Linked DNA regions of Homo sapiens. The protein of the gene in region 1 purifies or fractionates together with the protein of each later gene. This does not show direct contact. Each region holds a gene or a part of one and is shown on either strand. Other genes may lie near its edges.

What was found.
Region 2: the proteins of BCO1 (region 1) and ABLIM1 purify together in Homo sapiens (affinity purification with mass spectrometry; 2 studies listed by BioGRID and IntAct, with this or other methods). This does not show direct contact.

The regions. Positions count from the first base shown.
Region 1 is NC_000016.10:81,253,973-81,265,835, forward strand, and holds part of BCO1 (beta,beta-carotene 15,15'-dioxygenase), read left to right. Parts: intron 1-5,703; coding exon 5,704-5,833; intron 5,834-8,163; coding exon 8,164-8,311; intron 8,312-10,667; coding exon 10,668-10,815; intron 10,816-11,863. UniProt on the Homo sapiens protein: Symmetrically cleaves beta-carotene into two molecules of retinal using a dioxygenase mechanism.
Region 2 is NC_000010.11:114,645,281-114,657,143, reverse strand, and holds part of ABLIM1 (actin-binding LIM protein 1), read left to right. Parts: intron 1-549; exon of another isoform or gene 550-649; intron 650-11,863. UniProt on the Homo sapiens protein: May act as scaffold protein. May play a role in the development of the retina. Has been suggested to play a role in axon guidance.

The DNA.
Region 1 (11,863 bases):
AAGAAATATCTCAGTGACACTTATTCACACAGTAACCACCCCTGAAAAGATGTTTGCATAAAGGCTAGATGATTGTCTCTTAGGAACACAAATAACCTCCTGAAGACTGGAGGAGGAACTAGCAGGTCTTTCATGATCTCCCTCAATTTTATTTTATTGTATATTTTTTTCTTTGAGATAGAGTCTCCCTCTGTCACCCAGGCAGGAGTTCAATGGCACAGTCTCAGCTCACTGCAACCTCTGCCTCCTGGGTTCAAGCAATTCTCCTGCCTCAGCCTCCTGAGTAGCTGGGACTATGGGTGCGTGCCACCACGCCCGGCTAATTTTTTTTTTTTTTTTTTTTTTTTTTTGTATTTTTAGTAGAGACAGGGTTTCACCATGTTGACCAGGCTGGTCTCGAACTCCTGACCTCAGACGATCCGCCCATCTTGGCCTCCCAAAGTGCTGGGATTACAGGCATAAGCCACCACACCAAGCATTTTTTTTTTTTTAATAGATAAGGGCTTCCTACATTGCCCAGGCTGATCTCGAACACCTAGCCTCACCTTTTTATGTGCCAGGACAACAAGCCTGAGCCACCACGCCTCCCCTCAATTTTCTTATAATTAGTGTTACTATTATTGTCATTATGTCCATCCAAGTGCACAGGTGGGAGTCATTGCCACTGGAATGTACATTCAAATCCTTTGGCAATGGACATGGAAACACAACCCCAAGGGCAAAACAAGTTGAAACTCTTCAAAGTCAAGATAGCGGTTACCCTGGAGGGGGAAGAGGTTAGTGACAAGGTGGATATATGAGGCTAGCGTTCAGGGGGCTGCTCTGGTCCTGTTTCTCTTTTTGAGGCAGGGTCTTGCTCTGTTGCCCAGGCTGAAGTGCAGTAGTGCGATCTTGGCTCACTGTAGCCTTGACCTCCCAGGCTCAAGTGATCCTCCCGCCTCAGCCTCCTGAACAGCTGGGACTACCATACCCATCTGATTTTTGTATTATTTGTAGAGATGGGGTCTCGCCATGCTGCCCAAGTAGTCTTGAACTCCTGGGCTCAAGCGATCCTCCCCTCTGGGCCTCTCAAACTGCTGGGATTACAGGCATGAGCCATTGCACCTGGCCCCAGGTCCTGTTTCTTGATCAGGATGTAGTTTGCGTGGGTAGCTCCCCTTTGTGAAACCTCAGCAGGCTGGATGTCATCAAGCTGCACATCTCTGTAGGAGTGATTTTAATTGGAAGGTGCAGACAGAACACTCAAACTGATTGTTCTTGCTGTGTTAGGATCTTGGTTAAGAGGGCCAGCTTTAGATGCCCATTGCTGGCCTTCGACTCCAGATTACCACTCGCTAGCTGTGTGGCTTAACACAAGCTGCTTAACCTCTCTGTGCCTCAATTTTATTAGCTGGGAAATAAGTCTGCAGGGCTGTGAGTACCCAAGCCCTTTGTACTTCATTTGGTAAAAAAGTTGGAACCTTTAAGCACTGTTTAGATCTTGCTTTATTTTGCTATTAATTAACAAATGACATTATGTTATTTTTTTTTATTTTTTATTTTTTTGAGATGGAGTCTCGCTCTGTTGCCCAGGCTGGAGTGCAGTGGCGTGATCTCAGCTCACTGCAACCTCTGCCTCCTGGGTTCGAGCGATTCTCCTGCCTCAGCCTCCCAAGTAGCTGGTAGCTGGGACTACAGGTGCCTCCCACCACACCCAGCTAATTTTTGTATTTTTAGTAGAGACAGGGTTTCACCGTATAGGCCAGGCTGGTCTCAAACTCCTGACCTTGTGATCCGCCTGCCTCAGCCTCCCAAAGTGCTGGGATTATAGGAGTGAGCCACCATGCCCAGCCTTTCTTTCTTTCTTTTTATTTATTTATTTATTTATCTTTGACATTGAGTCTCGCTCTGTTGCCCAGGCTGGACTTCAGTGGCACGATTTCGGCTCACTGCAAGCTCCGCCTCCCAGGTTCAAGCAATTGAACCTCCCGAGTAGCTGGGACCACAGGTGCCCAGTACCCCGGCTAATTTTTTTTGTATTTTTAGTAGAGATGGAGTTTCCCCATGTTGGCCAGGCTGGTCTTGAACTCCTGACCTCAAATGATCCACCTGCCTCTACCTCCCAAATTGCTAGGATTACAGGCATGAGGCACTGCGCATGGCCGATTTTTTTTTTTTTCCAGCGAATGCATTTCTGGTTGGAGTATTCTACTTGCTTCCAGTGTTGTGAGTATGAAACCAGATAACACACATCAAGTGCCCAGCACAGTGTTTAGCATGCTGGTGCTCAATCGATGCTGGCTGTTAGTACTAGTTTCCTTTTCCTAAGATATCAAAAGGCACTGGGCGAGAATTTCTTGGAAACATGTTTTCTCCTCTAAGCCCATCCTGTGGCAGTCAACATATGATGGGCGTTTCTGAGGTCAACTTTTTGCTTATTGGAATGCAATGTCACTGTGTCCCAGGCTTGGCTTTTCCGTGTGTTGTAATTGTAGCAACACTGGAAGCACATACTATACCACGAAAATGAAATGCGTTCTGTAAAAGGAAAAAATCTTAATGTCATTTGCGAATTAACAGCAAAATAAAATAAAACACTGCCTCTTTCAGGCCCCTCCCCGAGGTTTCAAACTGCCCAGGAAATAAAGTTCTCAGGGCTGGTGCGGTGGTTCATGCCTGTAATCCCAGCACTTTGGGAGGCCGAGGCAGGCAGTTCACCCGAGCTTAGGAGTTTGAGACCAGCCCGGCCAACAGAGTAAAACCTCGTCTCTACTAAAAATACAAAAATTAGTCGGACATGGTGGCACATGCCTGTAGTCCCAGCTATTTGGGAAGCTGAGGCAGGAGAATCGTTCGAACCTGAGACGTGGAGGTTACAGTGAGCCAAGATCGTACCACTGGACTCCAGCCTGGGCGACAGAGTGACTCCATCTCAAAAAAAGAAAAAAAAAAAGTTATCAGGCCTGCAAACCTAGTAGGACCCCTCAACCCATTTCCCAATTTCATTTCACTCCTGTCCTCCAAATCCCTCTCTAATGTTCCAGCCCAGCCGAACTCAACGCCTGCAAGAAGGGTTCTGCATTTTCCCAACTCCAGGCCTTTGCTTACAGACCTCTTAGCGGGTGAACAGGACAGCTCTGCCCTCTCTCCCCAGCATATTGCAGTCAAATTCTACTCATCCTTTAAGAGCTGTTTCATGCACCACCTCCTCCCTGAAGCTTCTCCTGACTTATTCCCAGCTGGGAAGGACCTCCTCTCACCCCTGCCCCAGGAGGAATCCATGGATGTGGGTTTTTTGTTGTTGTTGCGTTTTTTTGTTTATTTGTTTTTTGAGACGGGGTCTCGCTCTGTCGTCCAGGCTATAGGGCAGTGGCGCGATCTCGGCTCACTGCAGCCTCTGCCTCTTGGGTTCAGGCAATTCTGTCTCCTCAGCCTCCTGAGTAGCTGGGATTACAAGGGTGTGCCACCACACCCAGCTAATTTTTGCATTTTTAGTAGAGATGGGGTTTCACCATGTTGGCCAGGCTGGTCTCAAACTCCTGACCTCAGGTGATCCACCCACTTTGGCCTCCCAAAGTGCTGGGATTACAGGCGTGAGCCACCGCACCTGGCCTAGATGTGTTATTTTACATAGCAAAAGAAACTTCGCAGGCTAGGCAAACGCCTGTAATCCCAGCACTTTGGGAGGCCGAGGCAGGTGGGTCTCCTGTGGTCAGGAGTTCGAGACCAGTCTGACCAACATGGCAAAACCCTGTCTCTACTAAAAATATTTTAAAAATTAGCTGGGCATGGTGGCACATGCCTGTAATACCAGCTACTCGGGGAGGCTGAGGCAGGAGAATCTTTTGAACCAGAGAGGCTGAGCTTGCAGTGAGCCAAGATTCCACCATTGCACTCCAGCCTGGGTGACAGAGTGAGACTCCATCTCAAAAAAAAAAAAAAAAAGAGAGAGACTTTGTAGATGTGATTAGATGAAGGATCTTGAGATGGGGGAGGTGATCTGACATTAGGGATGGGCCCAGTGTAATCTCAAGAGAGAAGCAGGAGCGTCAGCCTCAGAGGAGATGTGATACCGGGACAGGAGACAGGGGTCACAGTGACGCAGCCATGACCAGGGAAGGCAGCAGCTTCTCAAAGCTAGAAAAATCAAGGAACAGACCTCCCCTGGAGCCTCCAAAAGGAACTAGCCCTGTGGACACCTTGATTTTAGCTCTGTAATCCCCATTTCAGACTTTCTTCCAAACTCTGAGATAATGACTGTATGTTGTGTGAAGCCACTAAGTGAGGGGTAAGTCGTTACAGCAGCCGTAGAAAACTAACACGGGTCTAGAACCATCTGGTATATTTTGAGGTTGGTCTCAATGGACTGGTCAAGAGATTTATGCCATGAGTTAGACTCTCTGCAGAATTTGGATGAATTAGACATTGAACACAGGTCTGACCCTCTATTGCTATGCAGGATTGGGCATCAGGTCACCTCCTGGTTGTGTTCAATATCAAACGTTACTCCAGGGAGACTGAAGTGATCAACTGGGCTTCTGGAGGCAGCGCTCCCAGGACTGAACGGGGCCCTGGGGAAAACCACCCCACATATGCAGCCTTCTAGATTAGTCCTCCAGCTCTGCTCCTTCCCTGGAGGGACACAAACAGGGTGGAAGGGATGACTGATTCTGGTCAGCACTCTCAGATGGGTGACCCTGGGCAAGGTGAAAGAATGTTTCTGAGCCTGAGTTCCTTCCTATGGAAAATGGAGCTAAGAACAGACATATTTTGCATTGACATATTTTGCATTATCACATTTTGCATTGCTATAAAGGAATACCCAAGACCGGGTAATTTATAAAGAAAAGAGGTTTATTTGGCTCACGGTTCTGCAGGCTGTACAGGAAGCAAGCCACCAGCATCTGTTTGGTTTCTGGCGAGGGCCTCAAAAAGCTTTGGCTCATGGCAGAAGGCAAAGGGGGAGCAGGCATGTCACATGGTGAAAGAGAGAGAGAGAGAGGAGGGAGGGATCTTTTAAACAACCAGATGTTGCATGAACTAATAGAGTGAGAACTCACTCATCACCAGAACAACACTAAGCCATTCATGAGGGACCCACCCCCATCACCCAGACACCTCCTCCTAGGCCCACCTGCAACATCACAGGCTTCAACATGAGATTTGCAAGGAACAAAACATTCAAACCGTAACACATACTTATCCAGCCATACTGTTGTGAGTCAGGAGTGAGAAAATGTGTGTCTAAAATTATATTCCAGGCCGGGCATGGTGGCTCACGCTTGTAATTTCAGCACTTTGGGAGGCTGAGGCGGGTGGATCACCTGAGGTCAGGAGTTCAAGACTAGCCTGGCCAACGTGGTGAAACCCCATCTCTACTAAAAATACAAAAATTTGCTGGTCGTGGTGGCGCATGCCTATAATCCTAGCCACTCAGGAGGCTGAGTCAGGAGAATCACTTGAACCCAGGAGGCGGAGGTTGCAGTGAGCCGAGATCGCACCATTATATTCCAGCCTGGGCAACAAGAGCAAAACTCAAAAAAATAATAATAATAAATAAAATTATATTTAAAATGCGAATTGTATCGGCCCTGTGTACTAAAGGAGCTTGTCCTAGTGAAATAACCACCTTCTTCTCCCAGTAAAACCCATACAAGGACTGACATTGATTTTAAAGCCCTGTGAAGGCGTCAGCCTGAGATTATGCTGGTTCTTCTCTTGCAGGTGAAGTCTATTACAGGAGCAAATACCTGAGAAGCGATACCTACAACACCAATATTGAGGCAAACAGGATTGTGGTGTCTGAGTTTGGAACAATGGCCTATCCGGACCCCTGCAAAAACATATTTTCCAAGTAACTGCCTATTTTAAATCTGAGCAAATTTCATGCTTTTTGCTATCCTTGATGGCTGAAATAACCAGCATTTGCTCCTCTGACAATTCTCTTTAGGGTAGATGAAAACTCCACATGACTGCCCTTTAACCAGAGGTGCTACACAGTTCTTGATCACTGATTGCCAGAGAGACTAAGAGCATTTGACAAATTATTAGAAGCCCTCCCACATGGCTGGTGGGAAAGCGATTTGGAATCATCTGTCAAAATTATAAATGCGTATTCCCTTCAGCCTAGAGATCTGCTTACTTGCATAGAAAATGACACATGCACCAGGTATTTGTCATTTATGGCTGCATCATTTGTTATAACAAGTAGCTGAAAACAACCCAAATGTTCATTAAAAGAGGACTGGTTAAATCCGTAACAGTAAAACTGTACGAGAAAATGCCATGTAGAAGTAAAAAGGAATGAGGATGTTCTCTTTGCACTCTACAGAAGCTTTTCCAAGATAGACTAAGTGGAAAAAAAAAAAAAAAGGAAGGTGTAGAAAGAGCATGTTATAAGCTGTACTTTGTGTGAAAAAGCAGTAAGAAATCTAAATTAAATTTTGCTTGTACATGCATAAAGAAACTAGGAAAGGATGCACAGGGGCAGATGGATGTTGAGGAGAGGGAGAGATTTTTTGCTGTATATATTTTATTTCATTTCATTTCATTTTATTCATTTATTTATTTATTTAAGATGGAGTTTCACTCTTCTTGTCCAAGCTGGAGTGCAATGGCGCAATCTCAGTTCACCGCAACCTCTGCCCCCCAGGTTCAAGTGATTCTCCTGCCTCAGCCTCCCAAGTAGCTGGGATTACAGGCACCCACCACCACGCCCGGCTAATTTTTATATTTTCAGTAGAGACGGGGTTTCACCATGTTGATCAGGCTGGTCTTGAACTCCTGATCTTAGGTGATCCACCCACCTTGGCATCCCAAAGTGCTAGGATTACAGGCATGAGCCACTGCGCCTGGCCACTGTATACATTTTAAATCATCTGGATTAGTATCCATATGAATGTGTTACATATCTGACAGTTAAATTCTTGGCCAGGGAATCAGGCCTGCCATCAGTATCTTCTTTCTGAAACTCTCTAGATGTAGAAGAGTTATGAAAGAGTTGAAGGGTGGACTGGCCCAGAGATGGAAGATTGCTTCTGCTTTTTTGAGAACTGAAGTCATCTCTCCCATTCCAGTATCCAGCTCTAGGGCTAGCTCAGAGCAAGCACTGAATTCACATTTGCAAATAGGAGGTGTGGAGTAGGAGCCAGTGAGAAAGGAGGAGGAAAGAGCAAAGGAATTTAAAACCACCATACTTACCTGGTAGGGGAGATAGCAGGATCACGAATTTGAAACCACGACCTGGAGGTCCTGGAACCAAGCCTCCTTTTTGTTCCAGTGTTTGCCAGTAGGAGGAGCACTCCCCAATACACCGATACAGGATTTGCCAATTTCATCACCCATAAACCCCTCTGGTTTTTCTTTCTTCTTGCTTTGAGTATACCTTCTGATCAAATGAGCTATGTGTTCTTAACTCATAATTAGTTTGTTTTCCTTTTTAAATTAAAAACTAATTTCCTGGATAAATTCGAGATAACCAGTGTGGACTCACATTCCTGGCAAAGCAGATATCAGCTACGTTGTTAGGCTTTGGGAGCCGTTACGGGTTCATATACGATTTCCGTAGAGCTTCTTGACATACTTTGGAACAGTATGTCTTGCTGGCTCTGATGTTAGAGACCTTTGGGTTTTGGGGAGCCCAGGAGGATCAGCTGGTGACCATGGCATTCCGGCCGACTCATTTCTTAGCTAACTCAACGTGGAGGTGTCTTTGGGGTGTCTGAGTTCTTAGGATTCCTCAGGTGACCCATTGGGACCCAGTTGCTTTTTCTTCCTTAGTTGAAGTAAAGCATTTTTTTTTTTTCTTTGAGACAGAGTCTCGCTCTTTCGCCCAGGCTGGAGTGTAGTGGCGCCATCTCGGTTCACTGCAAGCTCCGCCTCCCGGGTTCACGCCATTCTCCTGCCTCAGCCTCCCGAGTAGCTGGGACTACAGGCGCCTGCCACCACGCCCGGCTGATTTTTTGTATTTTTTAGTACAGACGGGGTTTCACCGTGTTGGCCAGGATGGTCTCAATCTCCTGACCTCGTGATCCACCTGCCTCGGCCTCCCACAGTGCTGGGATTACAGGCACCCGGCCGAAGTAAAGCATTTTTAAGTGGTAGGAAAACTAAAGCCATCAAGGATAGACTTCTCTGGCTGGGTGGACATAGCCACTGACTCTGTTGATTTGCTTTTCTCCCCAGAGCTTTCTCCTACTTGTCTCACACCATCCCCGATTTCACCGACAACTGCCTGATCAACATCATGAAGTGCGGAGAAGACTTCTACGCGACCTCAGAGACCAATTACATCAGGAAAATCAACCCACAGACTCTGGAAACCCTGGAGAAGGTATCAACACATATGTAACCAGCATCACTTCCTGACTCAAGAAAGGGAGAGTCGGCGACGGCCGGGGTGAGGTTGCTCAGCCTGCAAGCAGCTTACCAGGGGAGCCCCTCCTCTAACACCGTTGGATCCCGTGCCCTAGCGCCACACTTACTGCTAGATGCTAGGCAGGGACTGTGTTGTTTTTATCTTCGTGTCTGTATCAGTTTCCTGGGGCTGATGTAACCAAGTCCTACAAAAAAGATTGCTTTAAACAACAGAAATTGGCTGGGTGTGGTGACCTACACCTGTAATTCCAGCACTTTGGGAGGTCAAGGTGGGCAGATCACCTGAGGTCAGGAGTTTGAGACCAGCCTGGCCAACATGGTGAAACCCCATCTCTACCAAAAATACAAAAATTAGCCAGGCGTGGTGGCATGTGCCTGTAATCCCAGCTACTCTGAGGCTGAGGCAGGAGAATCGCTTGAACTCAGGAGGGGGAGGTTGCAGTGAGCCCAGATTGCACCACTGCACTCCAGCCTGCATGACAGAGTGAGACTCTGTCTCAAACAAAAACAAAAAAAAAAAAAAAAAAAACAAGACAAACAAATAAAAAAACAGAAATTTACTCTCTCACAGTTCTGGAGGTTAAAAGTCTGAAACCAAGGTGTCAGCCCGGCCATGCTCTCTCTGAAGACTCTAGAGGAGGGTCCTCCCTGGCCCCTTCCTGGCTTCTAGCGGTTGCCGGCAACCCCTGGTGTTCCTCAGCTTGTAGATGCATCCCTCCAGCCTCTGCCTCAGTCTTCACACTGCCTCTCCTTATGGGGCTATGTGTCCAAATGTTCTGCCTTTTTTTTTTTTTTTTTTTTGAAAAAGTGTCTTGCTCTGTCGCCCAGACTGGAGTGCAGTGGTGCGATCTCAGCTCACTGCAACCTCCGCCTCCTGGGTTCAAGCGATTCTTCTGCCTCAGCCTCCTGAGTAGCTGGGACTACAGGCACGTGCCACCACACTTCACTAATTTTTTGTATTTTTGGTACAGATGGGGTTTCACCGTGTTAGCCAGGCTGGTCTTGATCTCCTGACCTCATGATTGGCCCTCATGATTACAGGCGTGAGCCATTGCACCCAACCATGTTCTGCCTTTTATAGAGACACAAGTCATTGCATTAGGGCCCACCCCAGTGCAGTATGACCTCATCTTAACTTAATGACATCTATAAAGACCTTATTTCCAAGTAAGGTCACATTCACAGGTACCCAAGGTGAGGACTTCAACCTATCTTTTTTGCAAGACACAATTCAACCCATAACTCTGTTCATAATTCTTGGCACTGAGGGAGTTCACTGAGAATTTGAATGAATGACTGTTGAAATGCCTGCGATTCTCAGCAATCCTACCTTCTATTGACCTGAAGAGGGAGGCATTAGGCAAAAAGCTAGGGCACAAAAATCAGTGCCCAAGCACATACCTTTCCTGGGAAGAATCAAGTCAACATTTTGGTGGGAATCAATAGACCCACTTTCAATTTTCTCCAGCTGGCTGTTCAAAATTCCGATGTCTCTGCAATACGTTTTAACGATCTGTTAAAGAGATGAGGCTTTTCTTAGCTGTGAAATTATGTCCAGCTCCTTTTAAGCTAGACGGCATCGGTCCAACTGATGATGCTTTCCACAGGGCTACAGAGAGGAAATGCTGGAAGAGAAAGGAGTTATCTGACTCTGGGCTGGAGGTTGTGTTTTTCTAGGGGAGGAAGCGCAGACGGTTGGTCTGCGGCCACTCCATCATTCTGCAGCTGTGGACTGCAGAGTGAGGGTCATTATTCAGCTCGTTGATCAAACTTCACTTTGACCAAATGTTTTTGTAACCTCTCCATTCCCAGAATAATCGTCTAAGAGAGGCCTAGAGATTTATGCTTCTGTGCAATGCAAAAGGGCAGAATTTAAGCCAGAATGACAGAACTGTGGCCAAGATTAGCTCGAAGGCTACCTCTCTGCCCAGGTCATTGCTCAGAGCTTTCTGCAGTGAGGAATCTTGTTTCCATGTTGAGGATTCCAGCAAGGTCAGGCAACAGGATTGGAACGATAGCCACAGAAGCACACCAGCTCCCTAACTCCCCTGCAACCTATTAGCTGTCTGAGTCCCTCAAATCCCCATGTGAGGTTGTATAAGGTCACAAGAGTGAAAGTCTTCTTTAAAAGCAAATTCTGTATCGTTTTCAGATCAACAGAGTGCAAAAATATCCCTCATCTCTCTGAACCTAGAATCAGTCACGTTTTCATAGGACTTCAACCTTTCTCCTTTGAAAAACCAGATGATGTCATATCTTGCAGGTTGATTATCGTAAATACTTTAAAAAACAGGAGGTGTCATATCTTGCAGGTTGATTATCGTAAATACGTGGCGGTAAATCTGGCAACGTCACATCCCCATTATGATGAGGCTGGAAATGTTCTAAACATGGGCACATCCATTGTGGAAAAGGGGAAGACAAAGTATGTGATTTTTAAGATCCCTGCCACAGTACCAGGTAGGCCACTCTGGGGAATTGAATAAAACACAAACAACCAAGTGTGGCTTCTTCTGAAGAGTTCTGTTTTTCGTTGATGACACAAGATCCAGTGTGGTACTTTCTCCCGTAGATTATTGAGGTGGACCATGAAGTCAGTACTTTCCTTTAGAAGAGAAGAGGAGATGCTGGGATTCCTCTTGGAAGAAAGAAATCCCTTTACTATTCTAATTTCCTTTTATTTAGGCTCCAGTTTATTATTTTATTAATTTATCTACCCATCTACCATCCATCCATCCATCATCTATTTACCATCCAACCATTCCTTCATCTACCATCCATCCATTCATGCATCTACTCACCGTCCATCTATCCACCATTCATTCAGCTACTCACTATCCATCCACCCACCTACCCACCATTCATCCACCTATCCATCACCCATCCACCATCCGTCCACCCATCCACCTATCCACCCCTTATCTAGCCAGCCACTCACCATCCATCCATTCATCCATTCACCCACCTACCCATCCACCCACACACCATCCCTCCATCCATCCATCTACCCACTATCCATCTACCCACCCATCCACCCATCCACCCACCATGAATCCATTCAACCATCTACCCATTCTCCCATCCATCCACCCATCCACCATCCATCCATTCATCCATCCACCCACCACCCATCCACCATCTATCTACCCACCCACCCGCCCACCCATCATGAATCCATTTATCCATCTACCCATTCTCCCATCCATCAACCCATTCACTTACCCACCATCCATCCATCCATTGAGCTTCCCACCCACCCATCCATCCATCATTCATCCATCCATCCACCCACCCATCCACCATCCATCCATTCATCCATCCACCCACACACCATCTACCCATCCATCCGTCCACCCACCATCCATCCACCATCCATCTACCTACCCATCCACCCACCCACCATGAATCCATTCATCCATCTACATGTTCTGCCATCCATCCACTCATCCACTTATCCACCATCCATCCATTGAGCCACCCACCTGCCCATCCATCCATCATTCATCCA
Region 2 (11,863 bases), on another chromosome or scaffold:
CAGTTTAGCTGAAGTACTGGAGTTAAGATGTTCTGTTTTGTTGCAATCAGCTTTCAACAGCTTTATTGAGTTATAATTCATATGCTGTAAAATTCATCCATTTAAAGTCTATAGTTCAGCGAGTTTTAGTATGCAACTGATATGTTACATATATATTTTCATTGCCTCAAAAAGAAACCCTGTACCCTTTAGCTATCGCCTCCCCACCCCAACCTCTTCATCCCCATCTCTCAGCCTTAAGAAATCAAAATCTACTTTCTGCCTCTTAGATTTCCCTATTCTGGATATTTCATGTGAATGGAATTTATAATCTGTGGTCTTTCGTTTATGGCTTCTTTCACTTAGCATGTTTTCAGGGTTTACCCATGTTGTAGCACGTGTCAGTACTTTATTCCTTGTTATGGCCAAATACTATTTCACCGTATAGATATTCCACAATTTGTTTCTGCTTACACCAGCTGATGGACATTTGGGATGTTTCCAACTTTTGGATTTTATGAATAATGCCTCTATGCATATCCATATACAAGGTTTTTTTTTCTTTTTTCGTGTCAGATGGGTAATGTGCCAATGTCATAACAAGGTTCGAGGGTGGCTCACCTCACACACGCGTGTGTGAACACATCAAAAGGATCATCATATACAGGTTTTTATGTGGACATATGATATGTTCAGGGCTCTTGGGTGTATACCTAGGTGTGGAATTTCTGGGTCATATAATAACTATGTCTAACCTTCTGAAGGACTTCTAGATTATTTCACAAAGCAGTTACTCCATTTTACATTCCCACCAGCAGCATATTAAGGTCCCAGTTTCTCCACATCCTTGCTAACACTTGCTATTATCTGCCTTTTTTTTTTTTTTTTTTTTTTTGAGACGGAGTTTTGCTTTGTTGCCCAGGCTAGAGTGTAATGGCGTGATCTCGGCTCACTGCAACCTCTGCCTCCTGAGTTCAAATGATTCTCCTGCCTCAGCCTCCCAAGTAGTTTGGATTACCGGCATGTGCCACCACACCTGGCTAATTTTGTATTTTTAGTAGAGATGGGGTTTCACCATGTTGGCCAGGCTGGTCTGGAACTCCTGACCTCAGGTGACCTGCCTGCCTCCACCTCCCAAAGTGGTGGGATTATAGGCATGAGCCACCGCGCCCGGCCTTATCTGACTTTTTTATTCTAGCCATCCTAGTGGGTGTGAAGCGGTATCTCACTGTGCCTATACAGAGCTTTGGCTGGGACAGAGAGGGCTGACAAGCAGATCAGTGCTCAGGCAAGACAGGATACCGACTTCGACAGCTGCTGATGGTAACAGCTCCTTGTCTCTTACTCTTAACAGTCTTCTCTTCATGATTCCAGGCACATTCCTTTTTAGGGGAGCAGGGAGCGGGGATGAAGAAGCCATGCCTTCTGCCCAGTCCCCTTACAAGCTCTGCTAAGAAGACTTTGTTCAGAACCAGCTGAGTATGCCTATTGTAGCAAATGACACCTCCCTCAAAAATCAGATCCACATACTAGGGGATACCTAGAATCCCTTTATTGAGGAAAAAATGTTTTATTCCACAAATAGGAATAAAAATGAAACATGTAGATTTCTGCTGGAGCTAACACTTTATTCTGAATGACTTCGATGCTTCTATGGAATGTTTCTACTCAAACAGACTCAAATCAGATATTTTTGGAATGAGCCACTGTTGCTCTTGAAAGAGATAAGATCTGTTGGGAGGAGAAGGCAGGAAGGCAAGGGGAAGCCAGGTAAGCTGTAGTTTAATGAAAGCATGCTGGATAATGACTTATCAGCAGATTCCCTCACTTGGGAACAAGAGAATTAACAGTATCCGAGAGAGTTCTGGATACAGGAAAGGTAATCATCATTGGGATATCCATATCTTAGTGGAGGCAGATAAGGAAATCTGGGAGATTAGTTAAGTGTGGCTTTGAGGTTGGACATTCCAGAATTTGACTCCCAGCTCTTCTACTCACTAAATGTGTTACTTTGGGAAGTTAGTGATTCCAAGTGCGTTTCTCTGTCCCTAAGGTAGGCAGGGAATGCATACCTTATAGGATTGCTTTGAGCAGGCCTATCCCTAGAGTAGATGGGGCCCTGGGCAGATTTTTTTTGTAGGGCTCCTGTCTATATAAACAATTTGAGTCACCCAAAGCAGTGTGTCAACAGCTCAATCTGTTTCAGTCTTGGGAAAGAAATGCCACACCAGCCTGAGGAAGTGATTGCTTGCTAGGCTTGTCCCCTAGAATGGAGCCAGCTCCAGGGCCCCAAGAAACCCATTGGCATGACTCCTGGGGCTCCTTGGGGCATCTGGCCAACCCCTTGCACAGTATGGGAGAGATGCAGAGGATCACTAGAGAGATCTGTGAAGAGGAGGCTCAGATTCCCCATCCAGACAGCACTGCTGGCCCCAGCGATCCCAGGTACCAGAGCGCACTTAGACATTTTTGAGGAAGGAATGGGGTTAGGGCAGGGGCCCTGCTTGCGTGTGTCTAAGGGCAGTATTGATTATGAGAACTAAATGAGAACCTGGCTGGGCATGGTGGTGTGGGCCTATAGTACCAGCTACTTGAGAGGCTGAGGCAGGAGGATCACTTGGGCCTAGGAGTTCAAGACCAGCCTGGGCAAACTTGCAAGACCCTATCTCAATTTTAAAAATTGTAAAAAAAGATAAAAATAAATTTAAAGAATGAGAACGTGCATATCAAAGTGTTTGGTATAGTGGCACACAAAAGCATCCACTAAATGTTAATTTCAGTAATAATAATAGAATTGCAATATAGTCAGCATTAGTCATTTTTGACAGTCTCTATGGAGGCTGAATTAAAATAATAAAATAAGAAAAAATTGTTTATTATTGTTAAAAATAATTTCTATTGTTTGCCTTCCATGCTGTGAAACAATAGAGGCCCAGAACTATAGATGCTGCACAGGACGTGGGATTCCCAGAAAGCCACTGTGTGTTCAGAGCATCCTGTTTAGGACAGGTGCTTGGAGGAAGTGCGCCCTCCTGCAGCCATGCATGTTCCTGTGCTACGAAGCCCCAGAGTGTTCAGGAGCAGCTCCTGGCAGGGTGCTTGGGAATATTTGGCAAAGGCCTCCTCCAGCTGCCAGAAAGATCTCACGATGCTGCAGCTTCCTGTTATTGTCTGGTGCTCAATCCCTGCTTTGAGTTGTGCTGGACTCCATGATTTTCCAAGTGTCCCCATGCATATGTGTCCTTTGTAAAGCTCAAAACAACCCTTGGATGTTGCAAGGGAAGAAATTGTTTTCCCCCACTTAACAACAGCAATGAGTTAGCAAGAAGATGGGAAAAGTGGGCAAAACAAATATATCAGTGAACATACAAAATAGCTTCCGCAAAAATATATCAGTGGGCATATATCAGTGAAATAGATCTGTGAATATACAAAATAGCTTCTGCAAAAATATATCAGTGAGCATATATCAATGAAATAGATCAGTAAACGTACGAAACAGCCTCTGCAGCTTCTGACTGTAGATGTAGTACTGTTCTTGAAGAACGGCTGTCATTCATTGAGGGCCTACTATATCTCAAACATTGTGATAAGTGTCTTTTTTTGTTTGGTTTTGTTTCTGAGACAGGGCCTCCCTCTGTCTCTGAGGCTGGAGTGCAGTGGTGAGAACAGGGCTCACTTCAGCCTTCACCTCTTGAGCTCAAGTGATCTTCTTGCCTCAGCCTCCCATGTAGCTGGAACCACAGGCGCATGCTACCAGGCCTGGCTAATTCTTTGATTTTTTTTTTAGAGACAGGGTCTCACTTTGTTGCCCAGGCTGGTTTAAAACTCCTGACCTCCAACAGTCCTCCTGCTTTGGCTTCCCAAAGTGTTGAGATTACAGGCGCAAGCCACCATACCTCGCCTGTGCCAAGTGTTTCATGATTTTTCCATGTTTGATATTCTCAATGACTCAACAAAGCAGGAATTACTTTTATCTCATTTTACAGAGAAGGAAACTGGGGCATATGCAGTTAAGAGACCTGCCAAAGGTCACATAAGTACTAGATTTGGGCTTAGGTCTGCCTGACACCCAGGTTCGTGGTCTCAACCATGATGTCACTCTGCCTCAGCCTGAGGAGCATAAGAGTGGGTCATTCATGAGGTACGCTGAACACTGGCACACCTAAAGTTTGTAAATAATATTGCTAATTACGTACTTCAGCAACTCAAATTTGAAGACTCCCATAAAGTATATTGCTGTTGCCAGGAAAATTAGCAAAGATTTCCTTCCTCTAGCTCGTAAATACAAGCTGTCTGTATGGAATGTTCCCTTACTCTCCTGTAGGAAATTAGAGTGAAGTTTTTGAACCTGTGTTTCTTTCTGTCCTTTGGAGCTTTTGGGTCTCATACAAACGAAAGAACATATTTAGGGCGATTACCTTCTTGACAAACAAACAAGAGACTGGCACTATTATCAAAAGCCCCAAGGATATCTGGAGAGGATTCAGTGATTATGTTGTCAGCTGAGTCCAAATCCCAAAGCAGAATGTTCTGGACTGGAGAGCAGGGACCAAAGTAGACTTGGCAGTCCCCTCCCTGGAAAAGCAGTTCATATCCCAGAAGAGAGAAAGGTGGTTCATGTCTGATTCAGGCACCTGCTGAGACCTTTCTGTTACATGCAGCACACCAGGTGTTGTCTTCACTCGGAATGGTTTCCCAAGACCCAGATACTCAGGGTATCACGTAAGTGAGAGAACCTCTTGGGTACATTATTGTTTCTTAAAGCAATACCAACCTGTTTTCAAACTAAGTAGAACATATAACACTATAATATTTTTCTTTTAGTGTGCCCTTCTTACCCCATTCACTAATCCGCAACCCCAGACCTGTATGTCAGAGGGCTAGGGGAAGCGTCTTGGGTATAGTAGGCCATAGGCCACAAATGGCTTTGTTGTCAAAAAGACAGCATATTCTTCAAGATGCTGTGGAGCTTTTCTATAGCATCTTCCTGGTAACATTGAGAGTCTGTGTCAGGGAAAAGGTTTTAATTCTCTCCAAACCCTGAAACTCAGCTGTGAAGGCCCTCTATTACATTTGAGAGAAGTGTTTGAGCTAGCCATAAAAAATACATCCTGGGAAAGTTGGTAAGAAGGACCAGCATGTGGTTCCTGCCCTCAGACCCGCTCTCCTGACTGATGGCTTTGACTAGGCTACTTTGAGAGGCAAAGTAGTGACCGGCATCTGCTGCTGGCAAGGAGACACACTGTGTTGTGGCCTCCTGTTCCTCCAGCATGCTGGGTCCCCAGGGCCTCATCCGGTTTGTTGATGGGATATGGTTCCCCCCAAACAGCAGTCTTACTTTAACTTTTGTTCTCCTGAGGATGGAGATGATAGGTGGTGGCCAGTTACTTCTACATCTTGCAAGGGCATGAATGGAGAGGGATTTGAGGTTTCAGCTATTTGGGAAAGCATTAGATAGTTTGCATTTTTTTTTTATTTATAGTTACCAATAACCCCTTTTCAATTCCCTAGGCTTCTCATTCCATTAGTTTAATCATATTTCCCAGAATCATACGTTTCAAGCTCTTGACGGTTAAGCCTTTCTATCACGTCCCACTCTTAACCCCCAAACACCCGCATCAGTCTTCTTTGTCACAGATGTTTGAAGGATGCTTTCACGTTGGGCCTCTCTTTGTATGTGCAATTCTGCTGCCTGGCACAGTCTCCCCAGTTTCTCTGAGGCCCAGCAGGCTGCAGGTTAAGCTTTTCCTCCTCTGGGCCGGCCTGATCTTACCTCTTGCCTCGTCCTCCTCTGTGTTTTCATAGCATCCTCTGCACATCTTTGTTCAAGTTGCCTGTTTATAAGCTTCTCCCTTTTCATACACTGAGGTCCTCTCTGAGGGCAAGGAGAGAGCTGTGCTCTTATTTTTATTCCATTATAGTACCTGGCATGGAAAAAAAGCTGTGAGTGATGAGTAAATGAATGAGTGAATGTTCGCAGAAATCAAATCACTATGTTCGAAGAATACAATTCGGCATTAAATTGTCCCCCTGCCTTCAAGTAGCTGAGGCCAGGAGAAGCTGCAAAGCAAACTGGTTGCAAATTCAGGGTTATGGGGTCAGACCTCGCTGCCAAGTTCAAAGTCCAGCTCTGCTCTTTGCAGTTCTGTGACCTGGGCAAGTGACTTAATATGTCCGAGCCTTAGTTTTCTCGTATATAAAATGTGGATAATACTACCCACATTGCAGCGGTATTATGAGCCCTAAGAGAAAATACGTATTTTAGAAATGCTGGCATTTAGTTGGAGCTCGATAAATACTTCCCCCTCTTCTTCTCACCCAAATGTGTGAGAAGTTGAATAATTGTCTAGATAACAAATACAATTAGTTTTCAAAGGAAAGAAATATCACTGAAGGGAAAGAGAAAGTAGGATTTGCGATTTGAGCTGTAAAATAGATATGATTTACCCAAAATACGAGTAAAAGGAAAATAGCCCAATGATCTGAGAGTGGAAAGAAAAAGGTAGAAGTAAGACACTTTTCACCTAGTTCCACTGGCTGAATCTACTTGGTCCAGCTTTTTTTTTGTTTTATTGATGGTTGCTTTTTGTTTTGTTTATTTTATTTTTAGTCCTAGGAATGTGGGCAAGTAACTATTTTCACATGAAATGTTCCCATGTAAATTACTTCCTTGAGTGAGTAAATATGCTGCAATGCCCCATTCGTTTTAATTAAATGTACTTAAAAACTAATCTTATTTAAAGTCAGAGGGTAAAGCAGTCTGTTTAAGTTTATTGTTTGGCATTGTTTTAATCCAGGCTTTAAACAAATTTGAATCTTACTAAGAGTGGCTTACTTTCAAAGAAATCCCTGATTTCCCATCCTTTGATCCTAATGATTCTGGGGCATGACCCAGTGCTGATTATTATGGATGGACTCCTGTTAACTTGGCAAATCAGCCATGGACCTGTGACGGCCATGGGTACAAGACAAAGCTGCTAACAGAAAGGGAATATGGATTGTGTGGAGGCTGGGCACAGTGGCTCACGCCTGTAATCCCAGCACTTTGGGAGGCCGAGATGGGTGAATCACGAGGTCAGGAGGTCGAGACCAGCCTGGCCAACATAGTGAAACCCCGTCTCTACTAAAAAATACAAAAATTAGCCTGGCATGGTGGTGGGCGCCTGTAGTCCCAGCTACTCAGGAGGCTGAGGCTGGGAAATTGCTTGAACCTGGGAGGCAGAGGTTGCAGTGAGCCGAGATAGCACTACTGCACTCCAGCCTGGACAACAAAGTGAGACTTTGTCTCAAAAAAAAAAAGAAAAAAAAGAGGGGGGATATGGATTGTGTGTTACTCATTGGGGTGGACAGGTGGCCAGCACAGGCTTGATTTGTCTATGGACTACAAGACGAAGGCTACCAGTAGGAAGGTAATATAAGGTGAATACGTGGTCAGCAGATGGGTGATTCTGTCCCTGGGGTGGAAGATGAAGGCTGCCAACAGGAAGGAAGCATAGTCTGTGTGCTGTTTGTTAGGGCGTGTAGAGGTAGCCAGCAGGAAGATTCCTTTCTCAATCTCAGAAAGCAGCACACCCAGAATACACTAGAGAAACCCTTTGCAGAATCAGGATTTAAGTATGTCAGGATTTTAGATAGACTATGATATGATATGCACGAGGATTCTAGATATTTCTCAAAGGTAGAAATAAACCTTTGATATCAACACCTTTATTTATTTATTTATTTATTTATTTATTTATTTATTTATTTATTTATTTATTTTGACAGAGTCTTGCTCTGTCACCCAGGCTGGAGCACACTGGTGTGATCTTGGCTCACTGCAGCCTCTGCCTCCCGGGTTCCAGCGATTCTCTGTGCCTCCGCCTTCTGGGTGGCTAGGATTACAGGCATGCACCACCATGCCTGGCTAATATTTTTGTATTTTTAGTAGAGATGGGGTTTCACCATGTTGGCCAAAGCTGGTCTTGAACTCCTGACCTCAAATGACCTGCCCGCCTCGGCCTCCCAAAGCACTGGGGTTATAGGTGTGAGCCACCGTGCCCAGCCAACACCTTACTTTTGTAGGAAGTAAGAGACTGAGGTCCAGAGAAGTAAATGACTTTCCTAAGGTCTATGGTATAATCAGAGGGTAGTGTTAGATTAAGACCCTAGCTCTCCTCTCTCCCTGTTTGATATTACATGAGAAGACCAAAGGATTATTAATTTTTTTTTTTAAGTTCAGTTGGAGATTCAGCTCGGGTGAAACTTTCCTGTGGAGTCTCTCCAGACCTCTCCTCTTTTGGGCTCTGCTGTGTACCACACAAATGCCCATCCAAGCACCTCTATGCTTGGCTATTTGTATCTGTTTGTTTGCGTGTCTCCCTACCAGGTAGTAAGTGCCTTAGTGGCAGGACAGTTGTTTCCGTGGTTTCTTCAGACTATAACGCAGTGCTTGGTAAGTAAAGGTACTTCATACATTTTAAAATGGAGATGTAATGTAGTACACCATAACATTCACCACTTTAACATTTACGAGCCTGTGCATTTTAGTAGAACCACGAAGTTGTGCAACCATCCCACTATCTAATTCCAGAGCATTTTTATCAGCCCAGAAAGAAACCTTGTGCCCGTTAGAAAACATCCCTGATGACTCACATTCCTCAGCTGCTGGCAACGACTTATCTCCTTTAGGTGTTTGTGGGTTTTCCTATTCCAGACATTTCATCTGATTGGAATCATGTAACCTGTGATTTTTGTGTCTAGCTTCTTTTACTTAGTATAATGTTTTTAAGGCTCATCGAGGCGGTAGCATTTATCAATACCGTATTCCTTCTTATGGCTGAATAGTATCCCATTGTAGGGATATATCACATTTTCTTTATCTTTTCGTCAGCCGATGGTCATTTGTGTTGTTCCTGCTTTCTGGCTATTATGAATAATGCTGCTATGAACACTTGTTACATGTTTTTGTGTGAACGTGTTTTCAGTCCCCTTGGGTATATACCGAGGAGTGGAAATCCTGGGTCATACGATAATTCTCTGTTTAACTTTTTGAGAAACTGTCAAACCGTTTTCTACAGTGGCTATACCATTTTACATTCCCACCACTTAATACAATTTCAAATTAAATTAAAGCTATTCCCTCAAAGTGAAATAACCAGTTTTCCCATATGTACACAAATCCTATATGTACATTCTATTTACATCCTATATCTTAATCTTCAAAACTGCTTTTATCTTTACAACATAAAGGTCTGCAAACATTATATAAAGAAAGGTAGGGCCTTTACTTTGAGAAATCATTTAGCTGGCTTGTAAATTCACTTTCTGTAAGTGACTTACTGTGGCCCCCCAAGTTTTGTTTGTTTGCTGTTTAGAAGTCTTTCCTCATCCAAGTTCTGTGGCCATAGATAACAACCAAAATTAATCAGAGGACATCAGAGACATTATGACTCACAGAGCCCAGAAAAATCTAGCTCACAAAGGTTTGTCTGCAGCCCAAGTGGAGAGGGAGAATTCTCATGCCATAGAGTAGGATCTCCTGGGATAAAGATGAGCTGGGGAAGAAAAGTCAAATAGCTAGGGCCACAGCTAGCGCTCAGCCAGCTCCCTTTCTGTCCATCATGACCTGGATCATTTTGTAAGGTCATTTTTGACATCACTAGAATATTCTGGGGTGTTTAATATTTGCTGTCCTTGTGGGACAATTCCCAGTTCTGTTTCATATTGGTCTTTTCCCTGAAGTGCTATCATGTGATTCTAGTGTGTAGCTGGATATGTTCTGTTATCCTTTCCTTGGGCTCTTTTCCCTAAAGGGCACAGACTCTATCTTCACTTGGTAGCCAGTGGCATTATAGGGGCAGTGGCTACTTAATAACTGCCTAGGCTGGGCACGGTGGCTCACGCCTGTAATCTCAGTACTTTGGGAGGCCGAGGCAGGCGGATCACCTGAGGTCAGCAGTTCAAGACCAGTCTGGCCCAACATGGTGAAACCCTGTCCCTGCTAAAAATACAAAAAAATGAGCTGGGCATGGTGGTACACACCTGTAATCCCAACTACTTGGGAGGCTGAGGCACAATAATTGCTTGAACCCAGGAGGCAGGGGTTGCAGTGAGCCAAGATCGTGCCACTGCACTCCAGCCTGGGTGACAGAGTGAGACCCTGTCTCAAAAATAAATAAATAAATATTAATTAATTTATTAATTAATTTAAAAAACTGTCTAATCTTTGAGGTCACCAATTGGTCCAGTGCTATCCATGATGGGAATACTAAGTGAAGTTAATTGTTTAGTAATACTTCAACTGAACTTGATTTCACATAGATCGTGGTTCAATTGGTCTATTTTAAGAGTTTAAAGAAGATGCAAACAGGATCCAACACATTTCCTGGTTAACTTCTATATCTACATACCAAGAGTGATCCAGTTCATTTTTCTATATGTGGCAGCAGCTGCTGAAAAGATGTTGAGCCCAGCCAACCTCCTGTAACTCCTCCTGTAGTCGTGAGGACCACATTAGACTTGAAGCTCACCTTATCTCTCTTGCTGAGCGGCAAGCATTCCTTCCTTTGAATCTTCATACCGTTTGGTCGGTATCTCTGATTCCAATCCCTTTCTGCCTTGTTTTAGAGTTATTTAGGTCCTTGTGCTGTTTGGTCTACTTAGATGTAAGGTTGTTGAGGGCTTAGTTTAGGTATCTTTGATCTCTATACCACTTGTGGCTCCTTGAAGGTGATACTTCGCATATTGCAGATGCTCAGTAAATATTGTTAGCCTCATTAATGGGTCAACATTCATTTGTTTCTCTTCATTTTTTCCTTTGATTTTTGCCCACCTAGTTCTCAATTGTGGATGCTATGGCTGAATGCTCATCTTGTGGCTTAGTTGCTTTTTTTCCTGTGTGCAAATTTAATGGCCAATGAAGCATATTGGTAAATGCTCAGTGCTCTTAGTATACGTTATTCAGGAAGAGGAAATATTGTGTAATCCAGATCCAAAACCAAGAAGAATTTAAGTTCTAAATATTTTCCTTCCTGTCCACCCTCTAATCTCCTCCAAATCCCAACAAATACAATACATATGCGGAGTGTTTTCATCTTGCTAGAGATAGTGAGAGAAAGGAAAGGAAGAGACCTACCTTCTGTATCTCTTTCGAATGTACAGCCAACTTGGCATATGGCATGTAGTACTAGCACAATCTTTGGTTGAATTGTAGCAATATGCAGCTGTTTAAAATGGTAAAAAGAGAGCCCATGTAATATATGTGTAAATGTTATAAAATGACTCATTTTTATAGAGCTTGGTAAATGTCATAAGTCACATCCTTCTGCCTAAAACATAAACACAGGCCAAAAGGACATTTTGGGGGCATATTTATTTATGAGGCAGTTGGTAGTTCTGACCTCTGCTACCAGAGTTAATCTAAGTTGTCTCCTTTACATATTTTAAAGGAAGAAGTACTTTGGCGTAGTCTGTGTGCATACAAGTTCCTTTGTGTTTGTATAATAAGGTGATCCAATTAATGATTGATTTTCTTGAGAAAAAAATATATTCTGTCTGATGAACATGCTTGGTCTTTTCAGGACATTGTTCTATTTAGAATCTGTCTCTGTTATCTTTAGATGAAAGTGATCAGTGACTCAAGACAAAATTTTTTTTAGCATAAAAATATGGATCTTAGATTCTCTTTTGTTTAGAACTCCCTGCCAAAAAAAAAAGAGACTCTGCGAGGAAAACTTAAAAGCAAGTAATTTATTTGGAAGGTGATCCTAGGAATCACTGGTAGAGGAGTGAGGCTAATAAAAGGTGCAATATCAAGCCAGTTACCAGTGTGGGCAGCAATTCTCAATCCATTGGGAAGTCTAAGAGGTAGTGTGGGATGTGCTGCAGAGATATCCCAGCC